Linked DNA regions of Homo sapiens. The protein of the gene in region 1 purifies or fractionates together with the protein of each later gene. This does not show direct contact. Each region holds a gene or a part of one and is shown in the gene's direction. Other genes may lie near its edges.

Region 1 (9,063 bases):
CGAGATCAGCACAACGCGTGCCCTGGACGAAACGGACGCACCGCGCCAGCGCCTACTGGTGCTGGTGAAAGACCACGGGGAGCCAGCGCTGACGGCCACGGCCACTGTGCTGGTGTCGCTGGTGGAGAGCGGCCAGGCGCCAAAGTCATCGTCGCGGGCGTCAGTGGGTGCCACGGGCCCCGAGGTGACGCTGGTGGATGTCAACGTGTACCTGATCATCGCCATCTGCGCGGTGTCTAGCCTGTTGGTTCTCACGCTGCTGCTGTACACTGTGCTGCGGTGCTCGGCGATGCCCACCGAGGGCGAGTGCGCGCCTGGCAAGCCGACGCTGGTGTGTTCTAGCGCGGTGGGGAGTTGGTCGTACTCGCAGCAGAGGAGGCAGAGGGTGTGCTCTGGCGAGGGTAAGCAGAAGACCGACCTCATGGCCTTCAGCCCGGGCCTTTCTCCTTGTGCTGGATCTACAGAGCGAACGGGAGAACCCTCTGCTTCCTCAGATTCAACTGGGAAGGTGGGTTTTTCTAGCATTTTATTTATTTATATAATTTTTTTTCTTGAAAGATATTATCGATTACTCCCAGGGGCCGTTCAAATAGTTTTATTCATTTTTCTAGAAATCCAGCAGATTTTTTTTCTGATAAAGTAAACCCCTTAACATTGGAGCCGACTTTGTCTTGACTTCTAGTGAGAATTATAAACTGTATATTAAATAGATATTTTTTGGGTGCTGAATCAATTTTATTTAAATTTGTGATTAAAGTGACATTGAATTTCTGATGCTATGCTGCCATAACACTTGAAAACCAATTTAGTTGTTAGTCATTCATTAAACATTAACATCACTATCATTTATTTATTGCTAAATGATGCATAGTATTTTAGTCTACTTGTATTGTTTATAAGAAACCCAAGCAAAAATATATAGCAATTGTTACCTTGTTAAGTTTGTAGTTCTCTACATTTCTCTGGATGGAGACTGTGAACATCTGATTGTTCAGCAACCTTCAGTATCTATTATTTTAATAAGAAAGAAACTTCCCCTAAACTTTAGAAAACAGTTGCTCCACTTTAGGAATCAAATTATGTCAATAAATGTTATAAACACAGCCTTCATTTCAACTTATATAAAATATGTTTTAAAATGCCTGACAATGTAGATAATTCAAGAAATGTTGACTGAAATTTTGTCTACACTTAGAACATTTTTTGAAATTCAGTTTACAGAAATTGGAGAAAATGCTTTTTAAACAAGTGTTTCCTTTCTTCAAGAAGACATTCTCCTTTTAATTGAAATTTTCTCCATTCAGTGATAAAATGATCAGCCATGTGAAGATTCGAAACTTCGAGTTCTTTTGAAATTCAGAGTCTGTAACTTAAAACATTACCCTTATGAATTTAGATGAGAATTCACTTGTTCTGTCAGTAATCCATAAGACAGAAATCTGTTTTTTTAAAAATATCTTTTTCTCCTCTCAGCTCATACATAACACAAGGCAGAAATCTGGATATGAGATTTGCCTCTTTAATGTCACTACATGTTATGTTTCCTGAATTGTAGTATGTGACTTTCAAAATGGTGGTTTTCCACACTCTACCTTTAGTGCAAGCTATTTGTTTGTTTTCTAATTTATAGTTTTAAAAACTTCGCTTATTGAGTTTTTGTTATGTGGTTTATATTTTTCTTTCTCTTTCAGCTATTTTATTTAATATTGTGTCAGATATTTTACAAGGTATGACCTAATTAAAAACTCAGTAGAGAAAGATCAGAATGGCCTTGAGAATAGAGCCACAAAAATAACTATGAAAATGCCAGTAACGTTTATTTAAAACAAAATATTTTAATTTTTAAATTTTCCCTTAAAACACACTTTTGGAATATGCTACAATATTACATGTTTTTTGTCTTTTTATTTTTCTGAGACGGAGTCGTTTTCTGCCACCCAGGCTGGAGTACAGTGGCATGATCTTGGCTCACTGCAACGTCTGCCTCCTGGGTTCAAGCAATTCTCCTGCCTCAGCCTCCTGAGTAGCTGGGATTATAGGCACATGCCACCGCGCCCAGCTAATTTTTGTATTTTTAGTAGAGATGGGGTTTCATCATGTTGGCCAGGTTGGTCTCGAACTCCTGACCTTGTGATGCTCCCACCTCGGCCTCCCAAAGTGCTGGGATTAAAGCTGTGAGCCACTGTGCCAAGGCTTTTTTATTTTTTTTTTTTGTCATTTTCTTTCAAAACTTGAGTGGTCTCTGAGCTCCTGTCATTAAACCTATCTATATCTGTCTATCAGCACAACTCACCTTGAATATAGTCTTATACTTTCAAGTATCTTTGTCTTTGCACGTTTTTCAAGTTTCATGTGCCATTTAAACTTGGACCCAGGTATCTGATTATTTGATGTGAATAGAGGGATGCTACAGATGTCATTTGTCTCCCGCCCTAAGTCCTCCAGTCTCCTTAGAGCTAGTACTTACTAAGCATTTACTATGTCATCAATAATCATAAAACGTATTTTTTTTTTTGAGTCAGAGTCTCGCTCTGTTGCCCAGGCTGGAGTGCAGTGGTGCCATCTTGGCTCACTCCAAGCTCCCCCTCCCGTGTTCACGCCATTCTCCTGCCTCAGCCTCCCGAGTAGCTGGGACTACAGGCGCCTGCCACCATGCCCGCCTAATTTTTTTGTATTTTTAGTAGAGATGGGGTTTCACCGTGTTAGTCAGGATGGTCTCGATCTCCTGACCTCATGATCCTCCCGCCTCAGCCTCCCAAAATGCTGGGATTACAGGCGTGAGCCACCGCGCCTGGCCTAAAATGTGTTCTTTATTATTGACGGCTGTATTGATGGGATTGGTAATTTAGTCCTTCATATTAATCTCTATTCTCTCTCAGAGTACAAGCTCTCATCATATGCAAATTCTCAGAAGGGCTGTGAACACCTTAGTAATAAATTTATCTTTTGAGGTCATTAGCAAACATGAACTCACAGGGATCCAGAGATGGTAAAATTCAAAACAGCCTGTCAAGTTCAAAACAGAGAGGTGAAAGCAGAAGAGACACTTTCCTATTTTGCCTAATAGGTCTCCTTATATGCATCTGTAGTTAACATTCCTCAATTCAAGTTAGAATCATGAAACAATAATGAAGCTCCTCCTATGTCTCTTTTCAAGTTGTAATTACTATATAGGAAAAACTAAGTTGTCACCCAATATCTTAGACACTTTGAGAGCAAAGGGGGTGCTGTAAATAAGTATACAAGATCACAGACCTAAATTGAGCCTGTTCCAGACAAATTGGGGCCTATGGTCAACCTATCCTTAGACCTGCTAACGCATTAGCATTAGCAGCACCTAAGTCCTCATTGAATGTTCTGGTTCAAGGCTCCACCTCAGAAATTCTGAAATGGGTAGTAAGAGCAAATTTTCATTTTAAAGCACACCTGAGATGATTCTCATACAACCGAAATTTTAGATCCATAGCCCTATTTGATACTTGACAGTGCAAGTTTCTGTAATTTAAAAAGATGTGGTGGCCTGACACCTGCAATCCCAACATTTTGGGAGGCCAAGGTGGGAGGGTCCCTTCCTTGAGCCCAGCAGTTTGAGACCAATGTAGTGAGACTCATCTCTGCCAAAAAAAAAAAATTAGCCGGGCATGGTGGCACACATCTCTAGTCCCAATTACTCAGGAGGCTGAGGCGAGAGAATCGCTTGAGCCTGGGACATTGAGGCTGCAGTGAACTGTGATGGCACAACTGCATTTCAGCCCGGGTGACAGCAAGATTCTGTCTCAAAAAAAAAAAAAAAAAGAGTAGTTTAACTACTCCCTACTTTTTATTCAATATTGGACATCTACATTGGGATATTTATGTTATCACTTGGTATAAAATGTACATTAGTAGAAATTGAGTTTAGTTTTTATTATTTTGTGCGTGGAGATGATTGATCAATGGCAAACTTATTTTACGCTCCAGATAGCTAAAACAAACGTTGATATTTTGATACATAACTCATTACATTTTAATTCAGGGTTTATAAAAAAGTAATCTCTAAAATCAGAATTTGAATGAATTTTGATGCAAGAGGCATTCCAGAGGAGTAGAGAAGTATAGAAACAGAATTTAGTAGGACACATAAACTGATGGATTAAGTGACACCCATTTCTGTCAGTTTTCTTATTCATAAATATTGTTGCTCTGTCATTCAGATTTTAATAAAAAAAGTTTAAAGTAATTGACACATTTAAAAATATTCTTTAGAAAAGTCAAAACATCATTAAATAAAATAAATTAACCCTTGCATAAGACCAATATGTCTGTTGTTAAGTTTTCCTTTCTTGGAAAGACAGAAAACTCAAGTTTTTTTCAGCAGCACAGATATATTACATTTTCATTCCTGAATATTTGATTTCAAGAACTTTGAGAGAGAAAAAAATATTTTTACTGCAAGTGGTGATGAAAAACTTCACTGACATTGATAAAATTACTAGATATATTTCAGAACTGTGTCTTTTGGGCATTTGAAAAGCGTAAATATAACAGGGTTGAAAGCATTTGCCTCTGAAAGCAGAAATAATAAATTTCTTAATTACTTTATTCAGAATTATAATTAAGATTCTTTTTGCCCGTGTAAGATATTATAAAATGAAACTTCTTGTATAAAGGATTTTTCTGTAATAGTACTTTTCTGTTTTCTTAAATACAGAAACCACCACTCTCAGCCTGTGCAGTAGCAATAATTAAGGCATTCTATAGGTAATAATTTTGCCTGATGAGCCAAATTTGGTATTGAGCCTCATGAAAACAAATGTGGCCAAATTGAGGCCTGAGAATAGTTTCCATTTATGAAGCACTCATTCTCCTTAAGGTACTATTGCAAGCACTTACTATATTATAATTCACTCAACCACCGTATTACTATTAGGCCAAAGTTATAAAATTGGAACATGAGGGAGGGAGAGGTTAAACGATTTTCCCAAGTCATGTGGCTAGTGAGTAGGATAATAGGAATCTAAATGGAGAAATGTCTGATGTTGAAGCTAATGATCTCTAAATTCTAGTGATGACTAGATCTTCGGAGTTATAAACACCTCACAGATAGTTGATGCTTGACATTAGTGTCTAAATAAACCTTATTAAATCTCAAAATAATGAGAAAGAGAAGTAAGTTAAGTGTCAGAACTTAAATGGAACTAAAGTTGTCATTTAATAAAATATTAGTATACTCAGTAGTATGCAAATATTAAGGGCATTTTGAAATTCGGCTATTGATAATCATGTGGTTAGGGAAGAAATCACTACTCTGAGAGTCTACATTTAAGAAAACATTGCACGTGGGATCAACATTTATTGTTATTAACTATAAAGAGACGTAATGTGAGGCTTTGAAAGTCCATAGACATAAAAATACGTAAAAAAAGAATTAACATATGAATGAAAGAAAAGTTGTGAACTCATGGAATCGTACTTACACCTAAAGCCACCGGATGTCGCTGTCGTCCACAAAATAGCTTTTTAGAACAAAGGCATCAGCCAGTTTCTCAAGGACTAGGAAGTAGCGTCATTCTGAGATCTCAGCCATTTCGATAAAAAATAGATATAAGAAATAGGACAGAAAATGTCAGATCGTATGTGCGTTCTAGACCGCTGATTCGTCGATTTGTAAAACAAGAGAAGGATAAGATGGTTTCCAGATGTAGCTGCCTGGGGGTCCAGTGTCTGCTGCTCTCGCTTCTTCTCCTCGCAGCCTGGGAGGTGGGGAGCGGCCAGCTCCACTACTCAGTCTACGAGGAGGCCAGACACGGCACCTTCGTGGGCCGCATCGCGCAGGACCTGGGGCTGGAGCTGGCGGAGCTGGTGCAGCGCCTGTTCCGGGTGGCGTCCAAAAGACACGGGGACCTTCTGGAGGTAAATCTGCAGAATGGCATTTTGTTTGTGAATTCTCGGATTGACCGCGAGGAGCTGTGCGGGCGGAGCGTGGAGTGCAGCATCCACCTGGAGGTGATCGTGGACAGGCCGCTGCAGGTTTTCCATGTGGACGTGGAAGTGAAGGACATTAACGACAACCCGCCCAGGTTCTCCGTAACAGAACAAAAGCTCTCAATACCTGAATCCAGACTGCTTGACTCTCGATTTCCACTAGAAGGCGCATCTGATGCGGATGTTGGAGAGAACGCATTGCTTACTTACAAACTCAGTCCAAATGAGTATTTTGTTCTTGATATTATAAACAAAAAAGACAAAGACAAATTCCCAGTGCTTGTTCTGCGGAAGCTGCTGGATCGTGAAGAAAATCCTCAGCTAAAGTTGTTGTTGACAGCAACTGATGGAGGCAAACCTGAATTTACCGGATCTGTTTCTCTGCTGATCCTGGTGTTAGATGCCAATGATAACGCCCCTATCTTTGACAGACCGGTTTATGAAGTTAAGATGTATGAAAATCAAGTGAACCAAACATTAGTAATACGGCTCAACGCTTCTGATTCGGATGAAGGAATAAACAAGGAAATGATGTATTCATTTAGCTCTTTGGTCCCACCCACGATAAGAAGGAAATTTTGGATAAACGAAAGGACGGGAGAAATAAAAGTAAATGATGCTATTGACTTTGAGGACAGTAACACTTATGAAATTCATGTAGATGTTACAGATAAGGGAAACCCACCTATGGTTGGTCACTGCACGGTCCTAGTGGAACTACTGGATGAAAATGATAATTCACCTGAGGTGATTGTCACTTCTCTGTCTCTCCCAGTGAAAGAAGATGCTCAAGTGGGCACCGTCATTGCCCTAATCAGCGTTTCTGACCATGATTCAGGAGCCAACGGACAGGTCACCTGCTCTCTGACGCCTCACGTTCCGTTCAAGCTGGTGTCCACCTACAAGAATTACTACTCATTGGTGCTGGACAGCGCTCTGGACCGCGAGAGGGTGTCGGCCTATGAGCTGGTGGTGACCGCGCGGGACGGGGGCTCGCCTCCGCTGTGGGCCACGGCCAGCGTGTCTGTGGAGGTGGCCGACGTGAACGACAACGCGCCTGCGTTCGCGCAGTCCGAGTACACGGTGTTCGTGAAGGAGAACAACCCGCCAGGCTGCCACATCTTCACGGTGTCTGCGTGGGACGCGGACGCGCAGGAGAACGCCCTGGTGTCCTACTCTCTGGTGGAGCGGCGGTTGGGCGAGCGCTCGCTGTCGAGCTACGTGTCGGTGCACGCGGAGAGCGGCAAGGTGTACGCGCTGCAGCCGCTGGACCACGAGGAGCTGGAGCTGCTACAGTTCCAGGTGAGCGCGCGCGATGGGGGCGTGCCGCCTCTGGGCAGCAACTTGACGCTGCAGGTGTTCGTGCTGGACGAGAACGACAACGCTCCCGCGCTGCTGGCGTCTCCCGCTGGCAGCGCGGGCGGTGCAGTCAGTGAGCTGGTGCTGCGGTCGGTGGTTGCGGGTCACGTGGTGGCTAAGGTGCGCGCAGTGGACGCTGACTCTGGATACAACGCGTGGCTGTCGTATGAATTGCAGTCGGCGGCGGTTGGTGCACGCATCCCGTTTCGCGTGGGGCTGTACACGGGCGAGATCAGTACGACGCGCGCTCTGGATGAGACTGACTCGCCACGCCAGCGCCTACTGGTGCTGGTGAAGGACCATGGCGAGCCGTCGCTGACGGCCACGGCCACTGTGCTTGTGTCGCTTGTGGAGGGCAGCCAGGCACCCAAGGCCTCGTCGCGGGCTTCAGTGGGCGTGGCGCCCGAGGTGGCCCTGGTGGATGTCAACGTGTACCTGATCATCGCCATCTGCGCGGTGTCCAGCTTGCTGGTGCTCACGCTGCTGCTGTACACTGCACTGAGGTGCTCGGCGGCGCCCACCGAGGGCGCATGTGGGCCGGTGAAGCCCACGCTGGTGTGCTCTAGCGCGGTGGGGAGCTGGTCTTACTCGCAGCAGAGGCGGCAGAGGGTGTGTTCTGGGGAGGGCCTGCCCAAGGCGGACCTCATGGCCTTCAGCCCCAGCCTTCCACCATGCCCAATGGTAGATGTGGACGGGGAAGATCAGTCTATTGGAGGGGACCACTCTAGGAAGGTGGGTTATTACGTTTTCATTTTCCTTTTGTGCTTTATGAATAATATTTTCTCTTACCGCATTTTCTCAAATATGTATCAGAATATTTCATTTTTGTCTACATTCCATTTATGCTTGAATATTTCTAGTGATACCTTTGTAATATAATTTATTCCAGGAGTTTTAAAATTTTTTTATCCTACCCAGTGTGTCAGCCTTTGATTGGTACTTAAATTTTTTTAAATAACAATTTATTCTGAATACACTAATATTTTCCAATACAAATATGTGATATAGGTTGCAGTTCTGACGATTTACTTTCATAATCACTTTTCGTTACAAATATTTGTGAGATTAGTACTTCATGTTATTTCATTTCCAATCTAAATTTTGATTTGATTGTATTTGCATTACCAAAAAATTCCACTGATCTATATCTCTTCAGTGAAAATGTGTTTTCCTCCATGTGTAGAATATGTGTAGCGTACCACAGCTTATACTGCCATAGTAGATTTCAATGTTCAGTGATTACAGCTTTTTCTCAATAGTGCAGTAAGTAGGTGGGCAGTTCATTGGTAAAAATTTCTTAATCTTAGCAATTAAGTTAAATGCTTTGAACTTTAAAAACGTTTTCCATTTTTATTTTAGTTGTAGTGGTACCTGTGTCAGTGTGTATTATTCACTTAGCAGAAGAAAATGTATGTTTCTTTTATTTACATAATTTTATCCAGTAGCTCTTCATTATCTGCTCCTTTATCAGCATTAGGCATTGCTTATGATATTCAGGTATTAGCTCTTTCACTTTAAGGAAGGAGTCATGCTTATGTTTAATAATGAAGAGAATTTGAACACTTTTTACTTTTGAGACTGAAAATACTTTAGTATGAATTAATATTAAAAGTTTGAGGAGAAAATAAAATTAATGTTTTCTACTGATCTGATATATTGTATAGTTTAATAGCTTCTCTAGTCATCTTAAACAGGGTTGGGTTAGATGATATAGACTCAGAAATGAAAGCTAACTTAGTT
Region 2 (7,638 bases), on another chromosome or scaffold:
GTTATGGAGCAAGGCGAGCATTCATCTGGCTGTGTTGATCTTAGGTTGAGATACAGTTAAAGTCTATCACAGAACATGTTTGTGAGGCAGAAAATAATTGTGAAGGAAGAAGGGACAGATACCTGATTCATACATAGTTTACCTTTACAGCTTTTGTTAAATGCCTGTGGGGAGTTTTGAAAGATACTTGATTAGAAAATTGAAAGAGGCACTCCATCCCTTATGCTTGATGTGGGCCGAGGACACTCCTTGGCGAGTGGAGGTTATGGGACTTGTGGTTGATAGCCCCGTCTGTGGCAAGCTGCTCTGCTCCTGGATGAGTTTGGCAAGAATGTCTGAAACACTCCTGCAGGCCCGTGGGGGCAGAAGAACCAGGGAGCACATTGCAGGGTCTGGAAATAGGAGTGCTAAAGATAGGTGGCAGGGAGCATGAGACCCCTGGGGCATTGCAGGTTTGCTCAGACCAAGAGGACATGAGTGGCTGTTAGGAAGCTAAGTGGATGATGGCCCATCACAAGATGAGTGCCCTAAGCAGGTGTCCTGCTGAGAAGTTAGAGAAGCTGAGTAGGGCAAATGAGCAGACATTCCTGATCACCAAGGAGAAACACATTCCCTTACAATGTTTGTGTGTGAAAGAGTCACACTCCGATGCCCTCTTGGTGGGACTAGGGGCCATTCTGACTTCTCTGAGGGCAATTTGGCAACATGGATGAAAATTCAGAATGTGCATTCCTTCTGGCCTAACAATTCCACTCCTAGGAACTTCTCCTGGGGAGATGCTCAGCCCTGAGAGTCAGATGGCTATTCCTGCAGCATTGCTGACAGTTCAAAAGGGTGGGGATGATAACCTAGGGCCCATCAGGAGAGAATGGGCTCCAGGAGGGCGCTGTAGACACATGGCGCGGCCTCGTGTACATCAGATATCTGTGCATGTATTTAAATATTGTTGTAGGTTTATATGGAAAACCAGCCTTGACTTACTCTTGAGTAGAAGTTCAGGTTTATAGAGTAGCATGGGTATGGTGTGGTCTTATGAATAATATTAATAATATCTGTTGAGTAGTGCTCTGTGCCTGTCAGTCTGTGAAGCACATTTTGTGTGTTATTGCCCTGAGCACCCTGTGATTTAGGTGGTGGTGTTGTGTTTTTTTTTTTTTTTTTTGAAGCGGAGTTTCGCTCTTCTTGCGCAGGCTAGAGTGCAATGGTGCTGTCTCGGCTCACTGCAACCTCCAACTCCCGGGTACAAGCAATTCTCCTGCCTCAGCCTCCCGAGTAGCTGGGGATTACAGGCATGTGCCACCATGCCCAGCTAATTTTTTTTTTTTTTTGTATTTTTAGCAGAGATGGGATTTCACCATGTTGGCCAGGCTGGTCTCGAACTCCCGACCTCAGGTGATCTGCCCGCCGCGGCTTCCCAAAGTGCTGGGACTATAAAGGCGTGAGCCACCGTGCCCGGCTGATATAGGTATTATTATGAGAAAACCGAGGCTTGAGGGAACGTCCGCAACTTACCCATGATCATCGAGCAAGTAAGGGCGGAACTGGAATTCAGACCCAGCTCGCATCCTGACTCTAAGGGCACGTGAGAATGTGCGTGGGTACGCAGTCCTGTGTGCATTTGTGTGCGTACCGAGAGCCTCTGAGACAGGCCTGGAAAGGTGTTCATCAAAAGGGCAGCAGCAACAGTCATGGAGATTAGATTTTGGAGTAATTGGTTATTTTTTTTTATGCATGGTTTTTTTTTTTTGCCTCTTTTTGTTTTATTCACTTAGTTTTATCAATTTTTTGTCTCTTTGACATTATACATACCTCACTTGTATAACCGAAGAAAGTTTTGTTTTTATTTTGAAAACTTAAAAAAAAGATTGCTGGGATTTTTGCATAAGGAATCACAAGATAATTTGCAGACTTCTTAAAAAACAAAGGAGAGCCCGACGCAGTGACTCGCGCCCAGAATCCCAACACCCCGGGAGGCTGAGGAGGCAGCCGGATCACCTGAGGTCAGGAGTTCCAGACCAGCCTGGCCAACATGGTGAAACCCCGTCTCTACTAAAAATACAAAAATTAGCCGGGTGTGGTGGTGTGCACCTGTAGCCCCAGCTACTTGGGAGGCTGAGGCACAAATGAGAATCGCTTGCCACTAGGCAGAGGTTGCAGTGAGCCGAGGTCGTGCCACTGCACTCCAGCCTGGGCGACAGAGCAAGACTCCATCTCAAAAAAAAAAAAAAAAAGAAAGGAGATAAGCCTGGGAGTGATGTGAAGTGAGCTCCGTCCTATGAACGACAGAGCTCTTCCATAGAGCACGGTGCAGGACAGCGGGCCCCTCTCGGGCCTCGGAGGATATGTCCTTCATGTCATGAGCTCTCCCCCTTTCCTCACAGCAGCATTTCTTCACTTTGTTGGAGTCACAGACCCTGTTAAGAATCTGGAGGGAAAAATGCTGAGGATGTTTTCCTCAGGGCAGATATGCATAGACTCACACATTCCATACACAATTTCTTTCTTTTTTTCTTTTTTTTGAGACGGAGTCTCGCTCTGTGCCCAGGCTGGAGTGCAGTGGCATGATCTCGGCTCCCTGCAACCTCCGCCTCCCGGGTTCACACCATTCTCCTGCCTCAGCCTCCGTAGTAGCTGGGACTACAGGCACCTGCCACCATGCCCGGCTCATTTTTTTTGTATTTTTAGTAGAGACGGGGTTTCACCGTGTTAGCCAGGGTGGTCTCGATCTCCTGACCTCGTGATCTGCCCGCCTCGGCCTCCCAAAGTGCTGGGATTACAGGCGTGAGCCACCGCGCCCGGCCTCCATACAATTTCAGAACAATTTCAGAAAGTTCATGGACTGACTACGAGACCTCATCTATGCAGTCTGAGCTAAACGCTCCTACTTCCAGAATCGAAGGTCGCTGGTAGAAGTTAAAATAGTTTAAATGGGTTCTTCAAAAGTAAGCTGGTTTCCCTGCTTCAAAGCAAATGAAAAGGTAGCCCCCTGCTGTTCCACTGTTATCCAGTGAGCTTTGGAGTGTTAAGGATTATGCTTCGGAGTATAAGGGATTAGAAAACGCTGCCGTGAGAATGAGAGGCAATAAACTCAGACTTCAGCTAAGCGACTTCCCAGTCTAGCTCGTTTCTTAGAATGCCTCGCAGGGATGTCTGCAAATGTGTTACCATTTAGGAAAAACAGAAATGGCACAAAACCCAAAAGGTACATGAAAAAGTCAAACAAAGGTATATTTCCTAAAAGAAAATTATATAGGACTGCTTATAGCCTCTTGAGAAATTTGAAAAACCTAGGGTTCAGAGAAAAGGAGGAAAAACAATTCAGTGGTGGGAAACGTCAGTCCTTTAGGAGAAGCTGAAGGAACTGGAGCTGTTTGGTCTCAAGGATCCGTGTGTTATCGCTGAGTGTTGGCCGGAGAGTTTATGGAGCAAGTTTTTGTTTGCACAAAGGCCTAAAAGAGACAGAAAGGGGCATACATTGCTCTTCAACAAAGTTTGCATGAAAATTTCAAGAAACGATGCAGTGCTGAGGACCCCCAGGCACGCGGTGGAGTCGCCTCCTCCAGAGAGTTTTCAAAACAGAGCAGCTTTTAGGCTCTGTAGCCTGAACCCCAGCTGGGGAGCCGAGGTCTCTTCCAGCTCCTTCAGTGCTCTGAGAATTGTCTTCTCGTCCCAGCAACAGGCTTGCCTCGTGGGCTGCAGAGCGGCCAGGCCACCCTTAGAACCATCGTTGGTGTTTTCCAGGCAATCGTGAAGGAACATCCTCCATCAGAAACAGAAGAGAAGAACAAAATCACTGCTGCGATCTTTTATTCCATCAGCTTGACCCAGCAGGGACTCCAAGGGGTGGAGCTGGGAACATTCCTCATAAAGCGAGTCGTCAAGGAGTTGCAGGTAAGCGACACGCAGGGAGCCCCGGTCACGCTTGGCTTCCGTGTGGTCAGGTCAGCGAACCTCGTGGGGTGTCAGGTGCCATGAGGGACACAGATGAAGACAGGAGCTAAAGGGAGGGGCAGGGGGTAGAAAAGGTGCCAGAGACCCCTTGGCAACTCCTAGGAGCCATGAGTCTCCCAGAGAGATGAGAATGATGCTGAGAGAGGCCTCCAACCCAGCTGCCCAGTTGACTGCAAGACGCAGTTGTATTCTGAGGTCATCAACTCTCTCTAGGGTGACCTCGTTCTGACCTGGTCAGGACACTCTGGATTTCACGTGTCATCCTGGTGTAAGTGTCACTCTGAAATGTCCCAGCCAGATGGCACAGCTGGTAGTCATCCTGCCACGCCTGTCCTCCCCCTGCCCCTGCCCACACTCTCAGGGCCTCTGACACCTGATGTGCTGTTAGCTTGGGCCTTCTCATGGCCTGTGAGGGAGTGCTGAGGTGAGACCAGACAGCTCGAAGGTAAATGCATCGGCTTTTAATCTAACTCTCCTCTCTTTGCTGCCCTGTGAAAAACATATTAACCATCCTACATCAGAAATGTTGATGTTCACTCCAGGCCTAGGCTTTCAAAAACCACCAGCCTCATCAGGGACTTGGATAAATTCCAATGAGTAGAATCTAATAATTAGGTGCGGTAGCTAGATGTTTGCTAATGACTGGCTCTGAGCAGGGTGTTCACTGTGTTGGGGGCTGCACATGGCTGCAGCAGAGGCCTTCCTTTGAGGACGACAGTGTGGAGTGGGGACGTTTACATGCTCCTAGTAAATTCATAATCAATTTCTAATTGAAGCCCTCAGGATTCAGCTGGGCGTGGGCTTCATTACCACGCCGCCATGTTTCCCCCGGGTAACAATGAGCCGTAGCTCATTCCCACAGTTTCCTCATTCCTCTGTCTTCACTGAGGGTGGTGATTAGCAGGGCGGGGTGGGGAAATGTATCAGGGTAAGGAAGGCAGGAAGAGGAGGAGCAGATCCCGGGATTCGGGGGAGTTGGGCCTTAGCCCAGCAGCTGTCCTGAGGGTGTCGCTTAACTGCCCCTGGGCGGCCAGCCTAGAAGTCCTCAAAGGGAGTCTGGAAGGGAACAAATGGCCCCTCTGCGTGGAGGCGCTCGTCAGGGTTTACAAAAGCAAAACACAGCTGGGCGCAGTGGCTCACGCCTGTAATCCCAGCCGAGGCAGGCAGATCACCTGGGGTCAGGAGTTCGAGACTAGCCTGGCGAACGTGGTGAAACCCCGTCTCTACTAAAAATATAAAAATTAGGCATGGTGGTGCATGCCTGTAGTCCCAGCTACTCGGGAGGCCGAGGCAGGAGAATCACTTGAACCTAGGAGGCGGAGATTGCAGTGAGCCAAGACTGCACCATTGCGCTCCAGCCTGGGAGAGACAGTCTCAAAAAAAAAAAAAAAAAAACAGTGGTTCGGGGTGGGGGAAAAACCCCGGGAGCTACCACGAATGCCCAACGAGAGGAACATGGTGAGGAAAATCATAATAGGCTGCTTTTTTTATATTACTCTGTGGTTAAAATCTTCTGTTTTTGAATTTTAAATGATAATGAGAAAATGCTCACGATATAAATTCATATTGCAAAATATAAAGTAAGTGTCTCACCCATGCAAAAATCGCATCAAGAAACACCAGGAGTTTATCTGAGCAGACTGTCGAGAGTGGTTTTCTCAATGTAGTGGAGTGTGATGGTTTTATTTTCTTCTGTCATTAATTTTTTCAAAAAATATCTATAGTGAGCATGTGTTACATTTATAATCAGAAAGTAGCAGATTGTTTGAAATGATCATGAGATCTCTATCTAGTTGGGACAATAACGATTGAACCGTGTCATGTGATATGGAGAGATACCCGCAGCGTCCCCCTCCTCGCCCTCTACCCCGTTCTGCACCCGCCGTGGTGTGGCCGGGCAGCTAGTCGCTCACTCACCAGTCCCTGGCCACTCGTGTGCCGAGCAGCAGAGCAGCTTCCGGGGCCTCACAGGTGGCCATGGGAGGAGCATGGTGTACGGGAAAGACAAGGCCTGCAGTGAGTAGCTGCAGTGCACCGAGCCCCACTCCCCACTGGCCAGCTGTCTGGTTTTAGGCAAGTCCCCCAACACTCTAGTCTCGGTTTTGCCGACATGAGAAGGGATGGTGGGGACAGAGACGCCCTGCCTTGGGGAGTCAGGATGCCTCCAGGGTCTGGCACACATCAGGTTCCTGATAAATATTTCCTGCTGGGTGTGGCGGCGCGAGCCTGTGGTCCCAGCTACTCAGCAGGCTGAGGCAGGAGGATGGCTTGGACCCAGGAGATGGAGGCTGCAGTGAGCCATGATGACACCACTGCACTCCAGCTAGGGCAATAGAGCAAGACCCTGACTCTAAGAGGAAAAAAAGAAAAGCTGCTTGAAAGAAGATAAACAACATGTATCAGATGTCACTCTGACCGCTACACAGCAGCATGTGAGCCGTAGGTTAAGAGGTGCTCCTCTGTTGGTAACGTACCTGCTGAATTTGTGTTTTCTCCGCCTTCCTTTCCACCCCAACCATGCTTTACAGAGAGAGTTTCCTCACCTTGGGGTGTTTTCAAGTCTGTCACCTATACCTGGTTTCACCAAATGGCTTCTGGGGCTTCTGAACTCGCAAACGAAGGAGCATGGGAGGAATGAACTCTTTACAGATTCGGAATGTAAGGAAATCTCGGAGATCACAGGTGGCCCCATTAACGAGACCCTCAAGCTCCTCCTCAGCAGCAGCGAGTGGGTGCAGTCGGAGAAGCTGGTGCGGGCGCTGCAGACTCCGCTGATGAGGCTGTGCGCCTGGTACCTGTATGGAGAGAAGCACCGCGGCTACGCGCTGAACCCCGTGGCCAACTTCCACCTGCAGAACGGGGCGGTGCTGTGGCGCATCAACTGGATGGCGGATGTGAGCCTCAGAGGCATCACCGGCTCCTGCGGCCTGATGGCCAACTACCGCTACTTCCTGGAGGAGACGGGCCCCAACAGCACCTCCTACCTCGGCTCCAAGATCATCAAAGCCTCTGAGCAGGTCCTCAGCCTAGTGGCCCAGTTTCAAAAGAACAGCAAGCTCTGACAGTAAACCTCTCCTAAAGCACAGGGCCCCGGCTAAGAAAACGATCATTTTCAGGAGGGGCCGGGAGTTATGTATCTGAAGCAGCTTTCCAAGCAAAGCCAAAGTTGACTGTGTTCTTGTCCCGCAGCCGGTCCACACTGTGAGGCCAGGCCTCAACTTCCCTCACCCTGGGCGTGACATGCACCCAGTGCAAGACGGTTGTGGGTGCGGGTGCACACAAATGAGTGGGTTGCTGTGCTGTCTCCGGAAGATTCTGTCGTTGCCCTTGGCCTGGCTCCCTGCCCGGGGCTGGTGCTGTGGTACCTACATCTTCAGGAAGCTGTGCAGCCTCTGCCATTGCCATCCCAGGGGGATCTGGCATCCTCCTAAGGACCGGGGCGCGTGGCCCAGATAAGAATAGGTGTTCCTTTGTGCTCATAAAACAGAATGCGGCGATGGTTGCTTTAGCCGTTTCTCACCATGCAATGCAGAGGGACAAAGGGCTGTGCTACACTTCCCAGTTACATTCTGAAGCTCATAAATGTATGAGAAGGTTTGTGATTTTGCACAAGGTGTGTGTAGTAAGTTAAATTGTTGAACACAAAAATGTTGCTGCTTGAGGCATAAGTTGGATAATAGGCTTTAA

What was found. Proteins that work in one complex are often made in the same cells at the same time.
Region 2: the proteins of PCDHA9 (region 1) and MLYCD purify together in Homo sapiens (affinity purification with mass spectrometry; 2 studies listed by BioGRID and IntAct, with this or other methods). This does not show direct contact.

Annotation. Positions count from the first base shown.
Region 1 is NC_000005.10:140,850,382-140,859,444, forward strand, and holds part of PCDHA9 (protocadherin alpha-9 isoform 1 precursor), read left to right. Parts: coding exon 1-508; coding exon of another isoform or gene 509-643; exon of another isoform or gene 644-3,778; intron 3,779-5,515; exon of another isoform or gene 5,516-5,667; coding exon of another isoform or gene 5,668-8,202; exon of another isoform or gene 8,203-9,063. Other genes in the region: PCDHA10 (protocadherin alpha-10 isoform 1 precursor), read left to right, coding at 5,668-8,055. UniProt on the Homo sapiens protein: Potential calcium-dependent cell-adhesion protein. May be involved in the establishment and maintenance of specific neuronal connections in the brain.
Region 2 is NC_000016.10:83,908,477-83,916,114, forward strand, and holds part of MLYCD (malonyl-CoA decarboxylase, mitochondrial), read left to right. Parts: intron 1-3,741; coding exon 3,742-3,891; intron 3,892-6,479; coding exon 6,480-7,013; 3' UTR 7,014-7,638. UniProt on the Homo sapiens protein: Catalyzes the conversion of malonyl-CoA to acetyl-CoA.